Linked DNA regions of Homo sapiens: regions 1, 2, 3 and 5 are each reported to be linked to region 4. Evidence: microRNA targets listed by miRTarBase, many of them from high-throughput screens and not tested one by one. Region 4 holds a microRNA gene; each other region holds the end of a gene's coding sequence.
Evidence for each region. The annotated mature microRNA hsa-miR-891b reads UGCAACUUACCUGAGUCAUUGA and lies in region 4 at 3,005-3,026, opposite strand. An mRNA with a match to its seed (bases 2 to 7 or 8) in the 3' UTR can be bound and repressed. Matches are read on the target gene's strand: a 7mer-m8 pairs with bases 2 to 8, a 7mer-A1 pairs with bases 2 to 7 and ends in A, and an 8mer does both.

Region 1 (3,000 bases), not on the chromosome of region 4:
AATTAGTTATCTTGAATAAGCAGATAATTGTAAAGGATGATTTTCATCATTATCTGCTTATAAGGCATGTAAGAAGTTTATGTGTTCAATTGGTGGTAATGGTTTGATACTACTTGGAAAACACTTGTCTGGGAAGGTAATGTTCACTCGACCTGCCACTGCTTGGAATTGGGAGATCGTTTTAGTCAAATTGATTGGCAAAGTTAATCAACACCCCATGTGGCTTTTTCTTTGTTCACTATAAACAATTGGTCATTGGATTAGACCAGTTGACGAAAGTAGTGATTTTGCCCCTATATAGATGTTATTTTGTTATGCAATATTGATTTTTATTTTTCTATTAAAATATGCTCATGGTCCCTTCTTTTGCTTCTCCCCATTCATTGTCTCCTGCAGGATCAATATCAGTTTTCCTATCGTGCCGCACTAGAGTACCTGGGCAGCTTTGACCACTATGCAACGTAGAAACCCCTGACCCATTCTGGATTTTTACTACAGGCCCTTCAATATCCATGGAGTCTCTTCTGAGCCATACAGGGCACTTGAGAAGTCCTTCTTAACTTCTAGCTAACAACTACTTAGTGGGACTATTACACACAAAACAAATTAAAAACAAATTATTCCAGGTGGACCAAGAATTCACAGTTTAATAATCTAACCTGAAAAATAATGAAGAGAATCCTGACTGATGAGGCATCTGAAGGATTTTATTTACAGATACCTCAAGGATTCAAAATCAAGGGAAGAAGAAATCACAGCAAAGAACCACCATCTTATTCAGGATTGCTTGAAAGGTGCAAGGAGAAATTGCCAGAATGCTGCAGTTCAGCACAAGATATGTGCTGGTGTGGCTTCTCACAATGAAACGGACTCTGCTTTGACATCGCCCCTTCCCACCATACTGCTCATAATAACATTTTAGGGGGAAAGGGGAGGGAATGTTTAAAAAGAAAGTCCTTGATTTAGTTTTTTAGTATTGTAAAGATACTGCTGACCTGTGCTTCATTTCTAACTGTGTAAACTTTTTTTTAACAAAATGTATCATTCGATAAAGTGAATTTTAAAAAAGTTACATAACTCTTCATTTTTTTATTTCCAAATCGTAGGTTTTTTTAAGCTGTAGAACTGTTATCTGTAATATCTTGCTGTAGAAATATCAAATCATTTGAAAATTTGCACATTTTTGTGCAAAACTCAATCTACAGTATCAGTCTCGTCAGATATATTAATTTTACACTTCAGTTTTGATTGGTGAGAAAGTACCCATTCTCTTCAAATAATCAAAGATAATTATTATTTTGTTTTGTTTTTGGAATCAACAGGGAGGCGCAAAGTATAAAGTTGCTGCTAACATATATACATATATATCCATATTTTATAAGGGTGTCTATGTATATATAGACAGTGTGTCCACACAAAAAATAGATACAGTTATCAGTCAGTCAGTTCTTCCATGATTTAGTTTTTTTAAACGTAGAAAAGCTATTGTAAACATCTCTTTCCATTTATTCTTAATTTTTTGACATATTGGTATTTCTTTAAAGGGAAATGAGGAATGCACATCAGTGATTGATTGTCAAACCTCACCCCCTGATTTCCTACCTAATCTACCCCCACCTAACCAATCAATCACATCCACAAATTGTTTTGTTTGTTTGTTAGTCAGGCTTCCAACAAAGTTCAATATTTCTAACACTCTAGTGCAATAAAAATTATTATTAAATAGCTAAGAGGTGTGCATGTGGGAAAGGTCAGTGCATATCCCTTTAGGAGGGGAGAATGTTGTAATATATCAGCTATCGAGTTGTTTAAAAAAAGTGTATTCAATCGTATATTGTCTATAGTATGTGCTATGAAATTTGCATTTATGATATGTAACAGGGGCAAAGCCAAATTCATGTTACTCTGTTCAGTCAGAAACATTTTGTGGCATACAGCATTCCTGGGAAGTGCTGTACTTTGTTTCGTTTTGGTTTTAGTTTTGCATTTAGAGTGCCTTATAATTGATGCCTATTTTAATAGCATTTCTTTTTAGCTTTTGGTTCGTATTTCCATTCACTGTTCGTATCTGTTACTTTCTATTAAAGCATTATCTGTTTACCACATGTACAAAAACTCTTTGAATAATATGCATTCCTAGTTTTCAGCCAAGTCGGGGATGTTAGTGATTGTACCAGCCCAAAGCACTTGGATAATCAGGGCCCTTCTTCCTTTTATAATCAATCATCAACATCAGAAAAAGCTACTTGTTTTATTTATATTCCCTTCCAAATCCGCTCTGGAACATGCAGTAACTGCACCAAACTTATTTTAGTAACAAATATCATTGGCAACTTTGGAATATATTTGATATTCCATTAGGATTTTTCTAAAAGGGGAAATAAACTATATATATATATGTATCTTACCCCCAATTCTTCCAACAGAATTTCTATAGGAAGCCATGGATGATGGCATAAGTTTGCCACATATTACATGATTTTAAATAATCCTCAAAATACCCAAGGAACTCTTAAAGAGTTTTGGTATGAGTATACTACTTTGGTTTAATTTTAGCTTCATGGATGTTCTGCATGGAAGGATTTTTGTTTTCCACATTTTCCCATTGCTAGCAGAGTGAAATCCAAGAGACCAAACATTTGCAAGCATTGTATTTGAGCACTTTTGTAAAAAACAAAGAAAAAGAAAAAAAAGAAAATATATATAATACTAAAAAAAAGTATCTAGAAGGCTACCTCAGAATGAGACTCTCTAACCTACATCAGAACCAGAGAAGAATGTGCACTATGTGGGTCTGTTATCATTATTTTCTTTTAGTTTGTATCTTTTTGGAGATTTATCCAAGTGCCAGATTACTCAGTGCTATAATTTTCTTTTAGTTAAACAAAGGGGGTCAGACAGACATTGCATCATCCAGACATGCCTTGTTGGACATGTAGAATCCGATGGAGCACTGCACACCAGAATGATTGGCCAATGAGCAGCTTCTCTCCCTGAAAC
Region 2 (3,000 bases), not on the chromosome of region 4:
GCCCTGAATGTTTTGTTCAGCTTCAAATAAGTAGACGCTGAAAAATGTAGCTTTATGCAATGCAGCTGAGCTCTCTGGATATAAATTTCCTTCTAGCAGGTGGTAGATATCAGGTCATCAGTCTGCACACCTCCCTTCAGAGCCTCAGGGATTCCCAGAGGTGCATCAGAGGACGTGGGCAGCCAAGGGGGTCAGAGGCACCTTACAAAATAAGCCACGGGTGGTAACATTCTTATATCATCACCTTTACAGCTCGGCTTCTTCAAAAGAAAATATGAAAAGATGACCAAAAATCCAGATGAGATTGATGAGACCACAGAGCTCAGTAGCTGAACCAGCAGACCTACCTGCAGTGGGAACCGGCAGCATCCCAGCCAGGGTTTGCTGTTTGCGTGAATGGATTTCTTTTTAAATCCCATATTTTTTTTATCATGTCGTAGGTAAACTAACCTGGTATTTTAAGAGAAAACTGCAGGTCAGTTTGGAATGAAGAAATTGTGGGGGGTGGGGGAGGTGCGGGGGGCAGGTAGGGAAATAATAGGGAAAATACCTATTTTATATGATGGGGGAAAAAAAGTAATCTTTAAACTGGCTGGCCCAGAGTTTACATTCTAATTTGCATTGTGTCAGAAACATGAAATGCTTCCAAGCATGACAACTTTTAAAGAAAAATATGATACTCTCAGATTTTAAGGGGGAAAACTGTTCTCTTTAAAATATTTGTCTTTAAACAGCAACTACAGAAGTGGAAGTGCTTGATATGTAAGTACTTCCACTTGTGTATATTTTAATGAATATTGATGTTAACAAGAGGGGAAAACAAAACACAGGTTTTTTCAATTTATGCTGCTCATCCAAAGTTGCCACAGATGATACTTCCAAGTGATAATTTTATTTATAAACTAGGTAAAATTTGTTGTTGGTTCCTTTTAGACCACGGCTGCCCCTTCCACACCCCATCTTGCTCTAATGATCAAAACATGCTTGAATAACTGAGCTTAGAGTATACCTCCTATATGTCCATTTAAGTTAGGAGAGGGGGCGATATAGAGAATAAGGCACAAAATTTTGTTTAAAACTCAGAATATAACATGTAAAATCCCATCTGCTAGAAGCCCATCCTGTGCCAGAGGAAGGAAAAGGAGGAAATTTCCTTTCTCTTTTAGGAGGCACAACAGTTCTCTTCTAGGATTTGTTTGGCTGACTGGCAGTAACCTAGTGAATTTCTGAAAGATGAGTAATTTCTTTGGCAACCTTCCTCCTCCCTTACTGAACCACTCTCCCACCTCCTGGTGGTACCATTATTATAGAAGCCCTCTACAGCCTGACTTTCTCTCCAGCGGTCCAAAGTTATCCCCTCCTTTACCCCTCATCCAAAGTTCCCACTCCTTCAGGACAGCTGCTGTGCATTAGATATTAGGGGGGAAAGTCATCTGTTTAATTTACACACTTGCATGAATTACTGTATATAAACTCCTTAACTTCAGGGAGCTATTTTCATTTAGTGCTAAACAAGTAAGAAAAATAAGCTCGAGTGAATTTCTAAATGTTGGAATGTTATGGGATGTAAACAATGTAAAGTAAGACATCTCAGGATTTCACCAGAAGTTACAGATGAGGCACTGGAAGCCACCAAATTAGCAGGTGCACCTTCTGTGGCTGTCTTGTTTCTGAAGTACTTAAACTTCCACAAGAGTGAATTTGACCTAGGCAAGTTTGTTCAAAAGGTAGATCCTGAGATGATTTGGTCAGATTGGGATAAGGCCCAGCAATCTGCATTTTAACAAGCACCCCAGTCACTAGGATGCAGATGGACCACACTTTGAGAAACACCACCCATTTCTACTTTTTGCACCTTATTTTCTCTGTTCCTGAGCCCCCACATTCTCTAGGAGAAACTTAGAGGAAAAGGGCACAGACACTACATATCTAAAGCTTTGGACAAGTCCTTGACCTCTATAAACTTCAGAGTCCTCATTATAAAATGGGAAGACTGAGCTGGAGTTCAGCAGTGATGCTTTTAGTTTTAAAAGTCTATGATCTGGACTTCCTATAATACAAATACACAATCCTCCAAGAATTTGACTTGGAAAAAAATGTCAAAGGAAAACAGGTTATCTGCCCATGTGCATATGGACAACCTTGACTACCCTGGCCTGGCCCGTGGTGGCAGTCCAGGGCTATCTGTACTGTTTACAGAATTACTTTGTAGTTGACAACACAAAACAAACAAAAAAGGCATAAAATGCCAGCGGTTTATAGAAAAAACAGCATGGTATTCTCCAGTTAGGTATGCCAGAGTCCAATTCTTTTAACAGCTGTGAGAATTTGCTGCTTCATTCCAACAAAATTTTATTTAAAAAAAAAAAAAAAAGACTGGAGAAACTAGTCATTAGCTTGATAAAGAATATTTAACAGCTAGTGGTGCTGGTGTGTACCTGAAGCTCCAGCTACTTGAGAGACTGAGACAGGAAGATCGCTTGAGCCCAGGAGTTCAAGTCCAGCCTAAGCAACATAGCAAGACCCTGTCTCAAAAAAATGACTATTTAAAAAGACAATGTGGCCAGGCACGGTGGCTCACACCTGTAATCCCAACACTTTGGGAGGCTGAGGCCGGTGGATCACGAGGTCAGGAGTTTGAGACTAGCCTGGCCAACATGGTGAAACCCCATCTCTAATAATATAAAAATTAGCTGGGCGTAGTAGCAGGTGCCTGTAATCCCAGTTACTCGGGAAGCTGAGGCAGGAGAATCACTTGAACCCGGGAGGCAGAGGTTTCAGTGAGCCGAGATCGCGCCACTGCACTCCAGCCTGGGTGACAGGGCAAGACTCTGTCTCAAACAAACAAACAAAAAAAAAGTTAGTACTGTATATGTAAATACTAGCTTTTCAATGTGCTATACAAACAATTATAGCACATCCTTCCTTTTACTCTGTCTCACCTCCTTTAGGTGAGTACTTCCTTAAATAAGTGCTAAACATACATATACGGAACTTGAA
Region 3 (3,000 bases), not on the chromosome of region 4:
GGACAGCCATTACAACCGCAGCCTTTTCACTGCCCCCTACTTTCTGTCTTTCCTTTCCACACAAAATGTGTCTGACAGCACCTTCTCAGAGGGCTTGCACATTACCTCATTGACTGGGGAAATACAGAGGAGCTCCGAAACTACACTCTGAAGTGTGTGCCAGATTTGGGTTGGAAGGATTAACTTCCCCTGCTTTTGCCCAGTTGTTAAGTGTCTTGCTGTGTTTTTCAGTTGGTAAGTCACATAGAAGAGATGCTCCAGACAGCCTACAACAAGCTCCACACATGGCAGTCACGGCGTCTGATGAAGAAAACGTGAGGTGGCCATGATGCTTACAGGTTTTGTGAGATTGAGAGAACTATGACCTGCAGCAACTCTGGAAACCTGGCCTGACAGACAAGCAGATGACCTCACAGGAGTGATAAGAAACATCTGCTCCACGCCAACTCCCAGAGCTGATGCTATTGTACTTGCACATTGGAGACTGAAAGGAAAGAAGGGACTAAATGCTGGGGAGGTAAATTAAGACAGAACCAAATGAGCTAAGTTGCAAATATATATATATACACACACACACATATATGTACATGTGTATGTACATATATATTTTAAAAGACTGTTTACTGCAGTTGCTCAGGAACTGCTTTTGATTCACATTAAGCTGCTTTCAGAAATTAAAAAAACACTTTTTAAAGGGTGCATTGATAAAATCTGAGGTTTTTTGGTTGTCGTTTTTTTCTGTGTACATTTTTTTCCTAAGTTTATGGCACAGGGTAGACCTTAAGTATTCCTCCTCCATCCTTCATTCTTCACCCTCCATTGGATCCTCAAGTTTTAATGAATTCCAATTATACCTTACATCAGCAAGTTAAAAAAAGTACTTTAAAATAAAGCAAAGGGAGACTGTTGCTCAACCATCAGGAAACAGTTGTCAGAAGACATCATTGGTTCTGTGTTTCCTACGGAAATAAGAAACGATAAATATTGCACTGAATGTTTGTGGTTTGGAGTCCCTGAATAATAAAGAGGGAATATATTTGCAGAAAGTCGCATAGGGTTTTTTAATGCAGAATTTTGTCAGAAGACAATGGCGCTGCATGTTTTTCTTTGAGTGCAAATGTACATTGCTAAGATTTTTTTAAGATGGCATGTGCTTTGAAAAGAAGATATTGCATTTTTAAGAGTTTAAAAATCTTATGAGTGAGAAATATTAAAAAAATCTTATTTTCACCTCTTTAGAAGAAATAAAAGATGTTTCTCCTATCTCCTTTTCTCTAGTATTTGACTGTTACTGTCCTTGGCGAATCGATAATCATTGCATAGTGACTGAAAAGCCTAAGTGCAAAAAAAAAAAAAAAAGATGTTCTTGTTTCTGAACTTCGTGCCATATTTTGTTCCTGATGGGATCAACTTAATGTTTAAGACTTTAGATGTCTTGTATTAAAAATTACACAAAAAAAGTAAAACTTTTTATACTTACCCTTTTAACTCTAACACATCTCTGGTTTCTCATTATGTGTGAATTTCCTTGGGTGGGCTGCCTGAGAACTGTTCATTTTATTTTAGGCCATGTTACAAACTGGTTATCCTTCATATAATGACTGCTAAGGTCAGAATCTAAGCCAGGCATGGTAGCACATGCCTGTAGTTCCAGCTACTTGGGAGGCTGAGGTAGGAGGATCACTTGAGCCCAGAAGTTCAAAAGTCCAGACTGAGCAACATAGTGAGACTCCATCTCTTTTTTTACAGAAAAAAAAAGAAAAATTTATGAAGACCTTGAACTGGTAAAGGGAAAGAAGCCACATCATTTTCTGCCTTCAGTCTTCCCATTTCTCTTTCAGATCAGTATATGTACTGGTATAATCCCTTAAAATTTACACTTTCACAAAGTACTTTCAAATGTGTTACTGCTACAGTGGGGCAAATAGAAAAATGATTGAAATAAAAAAAAGTGGCTATTGGGCAAGGCAGACATAAGAAATAGAATGTTCTGTTGAGTGCTGTGTTGAAAATTAAGTTGTAAGCTGGGCATGGTGAGTCATACCTGTAATCCAGCACTTTGGGAGGCCAAGGCAAGAGGATCACTTGAGCTCAGGAATTCAAGACCAGCCTGGGCAACATAGCAAAACCTCATCTCTACTAAAAGTAAAAAAAGTTAGCTGGGCGTGGTGGTATGTGCTTGTAGTTCCAGCTGCTCTGGAGGCCGAGGCGGGAGGATTGCATGAGCCCAGGAGATTGAGGCTGCAATGAGCTATGATCACACCACTGCACTACAGCCTGGACAGTAAGACAAAGCCCTGTCTCAAAAAAAAAAAAAAAAAAAAAAAAAATATATATATATATATATATATATATATATAAAGCCTGAAGGAAAGACTTCATTTAAAAGAGCGTTTTAGCTAAGTCTTGAAGGTTGAGTAGGATTTTGTGAGGTAGAGAAGAAAGTCATCTCTTCTAGACTGAGGGAAGAGCATGATGATGAGAAGGTTTGAAAGACTGAAATATGTTAGAAGAACAGGAAAGATGTGTTAGATTGGAGAGTTGGAAGTGACAAGTAAGGCTCAGAAAACCATGTTAATTCAGGTTGTGAATGGCCTTGTATGCTAAAGTAAAATACTCAGACCTTACCTACTAGGCATGGGAGACTTGAGAGAAAGTTTTAAGCAAGTTGCTTTTATGGGGGGGTTTTCTGGTGGTGGGGGGTTAGGCAGGGGTTAAATAACTTGGCAATTAGGACAGATTTAGAAGACTTTCTGAACAAACCACACAGGAAAGCGTCTACATTAAAATGAAGTCCTGGTAAATAGGAAGGGCCTGAGTAACAGCATTTCTACAGTGTATGTGACTAACTCACAGGGAGTGAAGGAATCAAGGGTGATTCACAGAGATAGCTGTGAATTTCATGTCTAGCTTGCACTTGAAATATTTGAGCCTTGGATACCTTTAGCAATGAACTTCAGCAGCTGTATAGGCCTTTTATGGCCCTTCACCTTCTTGCGG
Region 4 (4,629 bases):
GACCCTTAGTGGTCTAGAAAAGCTGTGAGAGCAAACTTCTGAAAAATGATGCCTATTTTGACCCAGTTGTGCCAGTATTTATTTCTTGCATTGGCCTTAGGATGTTTATCTCACACAGATGATGATAAGCTGTTTACCACGCAAGAACAAGCACTGAATACACCAGTTGGCATGGAGTCAGAGACTACTATGTATCTCCTTATATTTCATTGCCTTATTTCATAAGTTATGTGAAAAAATAAAGGTAAATACAAATAAAAGGACAAGAGCAACAACAATAATTTATATTTCTGAAATGCTCACTTACACCACATCAATGTACTTGGGAATTTTATGTGAATCTTCTCATATGTCCTCACAATCTTTTACATACTGACACGGATTTGTCATGAAGATTAATGAAAAAACATGTGAAGATACGCTTGGATCCTCAAATATAACACAGGAGATATTATGCTTATGGCAACATAAAAGGCACATCTAGAGAAGAAAAATTACCTATGAAATTTCCTATTTACAACCTACTTAACCATCTATAAGTATGTGGGTAGTTCTATCACGTATAATTCACCAGCGCTATTAACTGTCTTTCTTTACACCAAATGGTCCCGAGATCTTGATAATTCTGATGCATGAGAGAGCAATACAGGAACAGCTGGCAGCAGGTACTTTCAGATTTATGATGGGAAGGCAGAGTTCTCCTAAGTGCCTCGCTTGGGACATACTGACTGTGATGATGTGGAATGAGAATTTCTTTAATACAGCAATGCATTAAAAATGGAGATATCACTGTCTATCTAGATTGATTAAAACATTAAAACCACTAGATTTGGCCAGGCGCGGTGGCTCACGCCTGTAATCCCAGCACTTTGGGAGGCTGAGGTGGGCGGATCACAAGGTCAGGAGATCAAGACCATCCTGGCTAACACGATGAAACCCCGTCTCTACTAAAAAAAATACAAAAAATTAGCCCGGCGTGGTGGCGGGTGCCTGTAGTCCCAGCTACACAGGAGGCTGTGGTGGGAGAATGGTGTGAACCCATGAGGCGGAGCTTGCAGTGAGCAGAGATGGGCTACTGCACTCCAGCCTGGGTGGTAGAGCGAGACTCCATCTCAAAAAAAAAAAAAAACCAAAAAAACCCAAAACACTAGATTAGTAAGGTTGGGAGAAAACAAAGAGATACTACACTAAATACCTCCACAAACTGTCAGCATTAGCCATCAATCAATATTAGAAAAATAAGAATTTTATCAAAAAAGAAAGATGGATTTGTAGAAGTGCCCAACCGCATACTCAGTTCTTGGAAAATACAAACCCTTCCAAGAGGAGACTTCAGGATTGCTAAGGACTTAAACCCCTTACCAGATGAATTAGGTGGTGCAATGCTTTACTGAAAACTATTTTAAAATCCTAGTCTTGTAATCATACAACTGGAATGGTCTCAAAAATAATGAGCCATATCAGAGGTAAGGTGGTAAGGAATAGATAATATGTAAAAATTATGAGCTTCTTGTACATAAGCCTCTACATGTCTAGGGATTTCCAGGCTCCTACCATTTGGTAAGTGGAGACTACAGTTTCCAGATCAGATGGAGGAACAGTGACCAAATTTATCTGGTGTCTAAAACAACATAAAACCCAGATATATACAGAAAAGCTTGCCTTCAGACACTGTAGAGTGATCTGTGAGAGAGGGGACACATTAGAACAGTCCATCCATTCTCCTGCCAACTTCTCAGAGAGAGAATATCGACTCCAGTGCAGAGAATGGGAACCCAGGCAAAGCCTGGCAATTTTCAACATTAACAGATTAAAATGGAAAAAAGAGACCATCTCACTAGATGCAGGGAGATATGTGACTAAATCTAACATCCATATCTGAAACATAATAACAGCAAATCAGGCATAGCACAGAGTATATCCTCAATTGCTTGAATGGCATCTATGAAAAAACACAGCTAAATTAAGACTTAATTGTTAACGTTCTTATGCTTGACGCCTGAGATCAGGAACCAGATGAGAATGTCCCACTCACCATTTCTGTGCAAGAATTATACCAAATTAAAGTAAGGAAATCAGGTAAGGACATAATATTTTATAGTTTGCAATCATGGATGAGTAAAATCAGGAGTCTGTCATCTTCAACCATTGACTTCCCCTTACCTGTGTTTGCAGTGGCTTCAATGCTTGCACTGCAAGTAAATTATCTCTGCAGGCATAGATATCCACAGAGTATTCTAGAAAAATATGTAAAATGAATAATAAAGCAGAACAAAGCAGAACACATTACAATATGTATATGAAAAACCACCAATGAAATCCTTTGAGTGATAACTGATGATATGCTTCTTAGTACTAATGTAATAGCAGTGTTACTAGGACTGATACCATTAGTTATAGTATTAGTACTGCTTGCAGTAGTACTAACAGGAAAATCTGCTGAATGATTACATGTCTGGCAGATATGTAGTTCAGATTTTCATATGGATTTCCACATTTCATACACACGACAAATCAGTACCAAAGAGACAGTATCCTAATGTTTTGATTTGTCATGGTGATTGAGGACATGTGTAGAACATACATTTGGAAATGGAAAAAAACCAGAAATATACAGATAAGCATAGTAATCACAGATAATCATGTGATCATAGAACAACATTAAGTTAAGACTGCTACGCAGTGTTAACCTCACAGAAACCATCCACATTAACCTCAGAAAAACAGAAAATAAGAAGAAATTCATCTTGCTGCTATACGTCCTCCAGTCTGACCTAATAAAAGGTGTTTATTGAACATGCTCTTATTTTTACCAAAGTACTAGTAATATAGTCTCTACTAGTACGACTACTCTACTACCAGTATCACTACAAGGAGGTGAAGGAAAAGCAGCAGTAGCTACATAACTGATGACTTACATGGTTTGCAATGTCCATGAGGCCTTTAGATGGATTATCTCTTTTGACCCTAACAACAAACATGTGCCATTGAATGTTTTACTGAATCAATGACTCAGGTAAGTTGCAAGGATTAAGGAGACAACATTTGTAGACTCTTTTGGGACCTACAAAGAAACAAAGAAGCTACGTAATTATAGTATGACTATGAAACATTTAATACCTAAAATAAATGACATACTAATTTACTATTCACGACCTATGTAGCTATCAGCATGTATATTTTCTTTCTCATTTCTATTAGTAATAATTTACCGGTGCTGCAGTTGGAGGATGAAAATCTTGAAAGGGCTGGCAGTAAAGCTCTACCAATCCATTATAATTGTGACGTCTCAAAATTTGCAAATCACAGATTATGGTACAGAATGAGGCTGTCTGTATTGAGTTCAGTCTAAATATATAGACACTGATTCCCCACCCACAAATATGTAAAATGCGACAACTAACAGATAGTTTAAAGTGGGAAGAAAAAAGGACAGGTTAAAAAGAATGACAACCTTCCTCAAACCACCAGCAATAATTGTGTGAAGACTTGTTCAAAAGTTAAAATTCCCTAAAAATATACACATGTATATACATATATTCACAGATATCCATGCAGAAATAAGAAAATGTCCCCAAAAGCACATATACACGAAATTGAAGGGATTATGTAACTCAGACTTTATCCACATTAATAATGAGTAAGTCCTGTATTGTTCATTTCTAGTTCATTGCCTGTCCATACCTAACACTCTTTATATTATTTTAAAAGAACTATGATAAAATTCTTCTAATGCTTATTTTCTAATGCAGATCAAAGATATGAATAAAAAGTTATACAAAGAAAAATATGTGGAGAATCTACCACAGGAGTTCCTAAATGGTATTCTTAACAGTTACATAATAATAATCAACACAAGGTAATCATGGCTTACAAATTCAGTTTCCAAAAATAACTGGTGGCTGATATGACATGTTAAATGAAGCAAATGGCTGGAAAACCCATATTGAGCTGACAGTTCATAAAACTCATGATGTGATAGGTGAGTTCTACAATTAGAAGTAACTCTTGGTGACTTAACAACTCTGATTATGCAGGCTATTTATTAAATACTGCAATTCATTATACAGAGGGAGGTTGTTATCTTTATGGAATTATCTGAAAAATGAAGAGAACTGGTTGACAGCTAAGGAAATGAGGCAAGAATAAAAGACAAAAAATGACAAAGTTATTTTGCCTGTTTTCCAGCCACAATCATACAGCAAAAATAAGATTGTATTCAAAACAGAAATCAATCAAAAATTGGTAGGATAAATAAAGTTTTCACACATATAGACACAAAACTATTTGGTTTCCTTTATTAGACATAACATAGGTTTGCTTGGATAAGTATTTTTCTTAATTTTAAACGACTAAGGGCCAGGCGTGGTGGCTCACACCTATAATCCCAGCATTTTGGGTGGCCGAGGTGGGTGGACCACCTGAGGTCAGAAGTTTGAGAGTGGCCGATACGGTGAAACCCTGTGTCTACTAAAAAAACAAACATTAGCTGAGTATGGTTGCGGGTGCCTGTAATCCCAGCTACTCGGGAGGCTGAGGCAGGAGAATCCCTAGAACCTGGAGCTAGAGGTTGCAGTGAGCCGAGATCGCACCATTGCACTCCAGCCTGGGTGACATGAGTGAAACTCC
Region 5 (3,000 bases), not on the chromosome of region 4:
GTAAAGAATTAATAATTGATGGTTTAAAAAATTCCCAGACTCTTCAGATTGCAAATGATGCCAAAATTAAGAAATGGCTTCAAGGCAAAGATAATAATTGAGGGCACTTCCAGGAAAACATAGTCTAAAGATGATATTGAGGGCATGACTATACAATCCTTTCTCAAGACTTCAAAATGAATCAACATGGTGCTTCAGAGAACTATTTAAACAATAGAGTTCATTAGATTATTAGCGTAATTAGTTCTTCCCATTATCTTGGCAGAGACAAGCCCCAAGTTAGAGAGGGGATATTCTGAAGGGACTTTGGGGTGGCTTTTGTCTACTGGCATAAACCCCAATAAAATTCACAGGATACTCTTAACATTTTAAAATATTATATTGTCAGTTAATAGGGTTGCTAAAAAAAATTCAAAAATTAGAGAAATAAAATATTATATTGGCAGAACCACTGTTAACTTAGATGGAAAGGAAAGAGAGTATAAAAAGGCCTTTGGGTCTCCAAACTTCTACAAGTGGAAAGCACACTGAGAAAACCACTCAGCTAGAAAGATACGCTACCTTTCATGAAAAAAAGGTATGGGGAAGCGGCCAGGCTTAGTGGCTCACGCCTGTAATCCCAGCACTTTGGGAGGCCGAGGGGGGCGGATCACCTGAGGTCAGGAGTTCGAGACCAGCCTGGCCAACATGGTGAAACGCTGTCTCTACTAAAAATACAAAAATTAGTCGGGAGTGGTGGCACGCACCTGTAATCCCAGCTACTCGAGAGGCTGAGGTGGGAGAATTGCTTGAACCCAGGAGGCTAAGGCTGCAGTGAGCCGAGATTGTGCCACTGTACTCCAGCCTGGGTGACAGAGGGAAACCCTGTCTCAAAAAAAAAAAAAAAAAAGTAAAAAAGAACAATTAAAAAAAGTATAACTCAGGGGCTGGGTGCGGTGGCTCATGCCTATAATCCCAGCACTTTGGGAGGCTGAGGTGGGTGGATCACTTGAGCCCAGTAGTTGAAGACCAGCCTGGGAAATATGGTGAACAGCTGTCTCTTAAAAAAAAGAAAAAGTATAACTCGTAAGGTAGAACTAAGAGCCCAGAGAACATAGCCAAGAACTAAGAATTATTCTGAAGCCTTGAATACTAATCAGAGTTGCCAACCTCTGTCTGACTGAATTTCAGAATTGCCAGTCTCCTGTATGTCTTCCACTTCCCTACTTTTTGAAGAGGACGGTATCTAGCAATTATCCTATATCTGCTGTGCTACGGTATGTTACACATATGGGGAGCAAATAACTACAGTTCACAGGTCTTAAGAGAAACTACTTGAGTTGCTGTACCTAAGGAACTCATCCCAAGGAGCCCTCATTCACACTTGCACCTGACCTGATTTAGATGATAAGATACTGGGCTTTGAGCTGATGCTATATTAAGGTGAAACTTCTGGAGGATTTGAAAGGAGGTAAGAGTATTTTGCATTGGGAAGGACATAAATCATTGGGGACCAGAGGTCAGACTGTGGTACCCAACTTCCAAGTTGACACCCAGTGATTCCTGCCTCCTAATATTCACAATGTATATAATCTCTTCAACATTTATTAGGCCCCATGTAACCCATGGAATTTGGCAAATGTGATGGTATGTGACTTGAGGCTAGTTTATAAAAGAGTGACTTCTGCCTGGCACTCTCTGTCTCATCACTTACTCTGCGGGAAGCCAACTACCATAAGATACTCAAGCAGCCCTACAGAGAGGTCCATGTGGTGACAAACTGAGTCCCCTTGCCACCCACCAGCCAGAGAACTGACTCTTGCCAGCAGTCATGCAAGTAAGCCATGTGGAAGCATTTCCTCCAGCCCTGGAGAATTCTTCAGATGATCATAACACCTTGTCTGCAACCTCATTAGAGACCGCGCCAGACCCACGTGACTATATTGCTCCTGATTTCCCGATTCCTTCTCTGAACGTTTCTTTTAAGCTGTAGTGGATAACTAATATACCATTTCTCATGCTTTTGTTTCTGCTCTCATATTAAAAGGATATTTGGGCTGGGCACAGTGTCTCACGCCTGTAATCCCCAGCACTTTGGCAGGCTGAGGCGGATGGATCACCTGAGATCAAGAGTTCGAGACCAGCCTGGCCAACATGGCGAAATGCTGTCTCTATTAAAAATTCAAAAAGTGGCTGGGCATGGTGGTGGGTGCCTGTAATCCCAGCTACTTGGGAGGCTGAGGCAGGAGAATCGCTTGAACTCAGGAAGCAGAGGTTGTGGTGAGCCAAGATCACACCACTGCACTCCAGGCTGGGTAACACAGCAAGAGTCCATTTCAAAAAAAAAAAAAAAAAAAAAAGAAAAGAAAAAAAACCTCGGATATTTGGAGGCTCCTGTTGAATGAGATTTTCTCTGTATTACACATGCAGAAAGTACATATTTTATCAGAATATTTTATTTCAAGAGTTAACACTTTTTTCAAAAAGTAAAAACAATATAATTACTTCCCTGAGTATAAAGAACCAATTCTACAATAAAAGACCATTACAAAATTAAGCAATTAGAGGTACATAATTCTCTGCATTCAGTTATACTCTATTTCAAATTTATTCTTAAAAATGTCATGTTTTGGAACTTTAATGTTTCAAAAAAACCTCAGAACAACTCATTTTGCACCTATGGTGTTAAGGTTATCAGTCTGATCTGTCTTTATCAAATTCAAGGGCAATCTTCAAAGCGGTGCTATTGAGGCCAACAGATTGCATGTTACATATGATAGAAACAATGATTCCTCTTGGGGGAACCTTGTTATTTATAGTCTCTGTATCCAGTTCTTCAGGAAGGACCAGCAGGACACTACTGGCACCCACTGCCCCTCCAGTATGTGAAGCATAATGCCGTTGCTTTCTACACGAACCATACGTTTGTTTCCTTTCCACAACACCCCACGCCATTGCATATTTACCCTCTTTATCCCAAGACATCTCTGTGTTAGGGACTGGGGTCCACATCATAACCAT

Region 1: the mRNA of PTPRD is a reported target of hsa-miR-891b. Seed matches in the 3' UTR shown: 7mer-m8 at 1,339-1,345.
Region 2: the mRNA of ITGA2 is a reported target of hsa-miR-891b. Seed matches in the 3' UTR shown: 7mer-m8 at 858-864.
Region 3: miRTarBase lists GTF2H1 as a target of hsa-miR-891b. Seed matches in the 3' UTR shown: 8mer at 545-552.
Region 5: the mRNA of LACTB is a reported target of hsa-miR-891b. The part of its 3' UTR that is shown has no 7-base or 8-base seed match.

Annotation. Positions count from the first base shown.
Region 1 is chr9:8,315,339-8,318,338 of GRCh38, reverse strand. PTPRD (protein tyrosine phosphatase receptor type D) reads left to right here. Exons shown (of 46, transcript NM_002839.4): 46 at 397-3,000. The coding sequence ends at 465. Among named protein-coding and RNA genes, the nearest start is that of DMAC1, 520 kb to the right of the region's middle.
Region 2 is chr5:53,090,267-53,093,266 of GRCh38, forward strand. It overlaps ITGA2 (integrin subunit alpha 2), which reads left to right. Exons shown (of 30, transcript NM_002203.4): 30 at 253-3,000. The coding sequence ends at 333. Among named protein-coding and RNA genes, the nearest start is that of MOCS2, 18 kb to the right of the region's middle.
Region 3 is chr11:18,365,552-18,368,551 of GRCh38, forward strand. It overlaps GTF2H1 (general transcription factor IIH subunit 1), which reads left to right. Exons shown (of 15, transcript NM_005316.4): 15 at 232-1,494. The coding sequence ends at 318. Among named protein-coding and RNA genes, the nearest start is that of MIR3159, 21 kb to the right of the region's middle.
Region 4 is chrX:145,998,096-146,002,724 of GRCh38, forward strand. MIR891B (microRNA 891b) reads right to left here and starts at 3,036; the gene lies at 2,958-3,036.
Region 5 is chr15:63,141,479-63,144,478 of GRCh38, reverse strand. LACTB (lactamase beta) reads right to left here. Exons shown (of 6, transcript NM_032857.5): 6 at 2,418-3,000. The coding sequence ends at 2,674. Among named protein-coding and RNA genes, the nearest start is that of RPS27L, 14 kb to the left of the region's middle.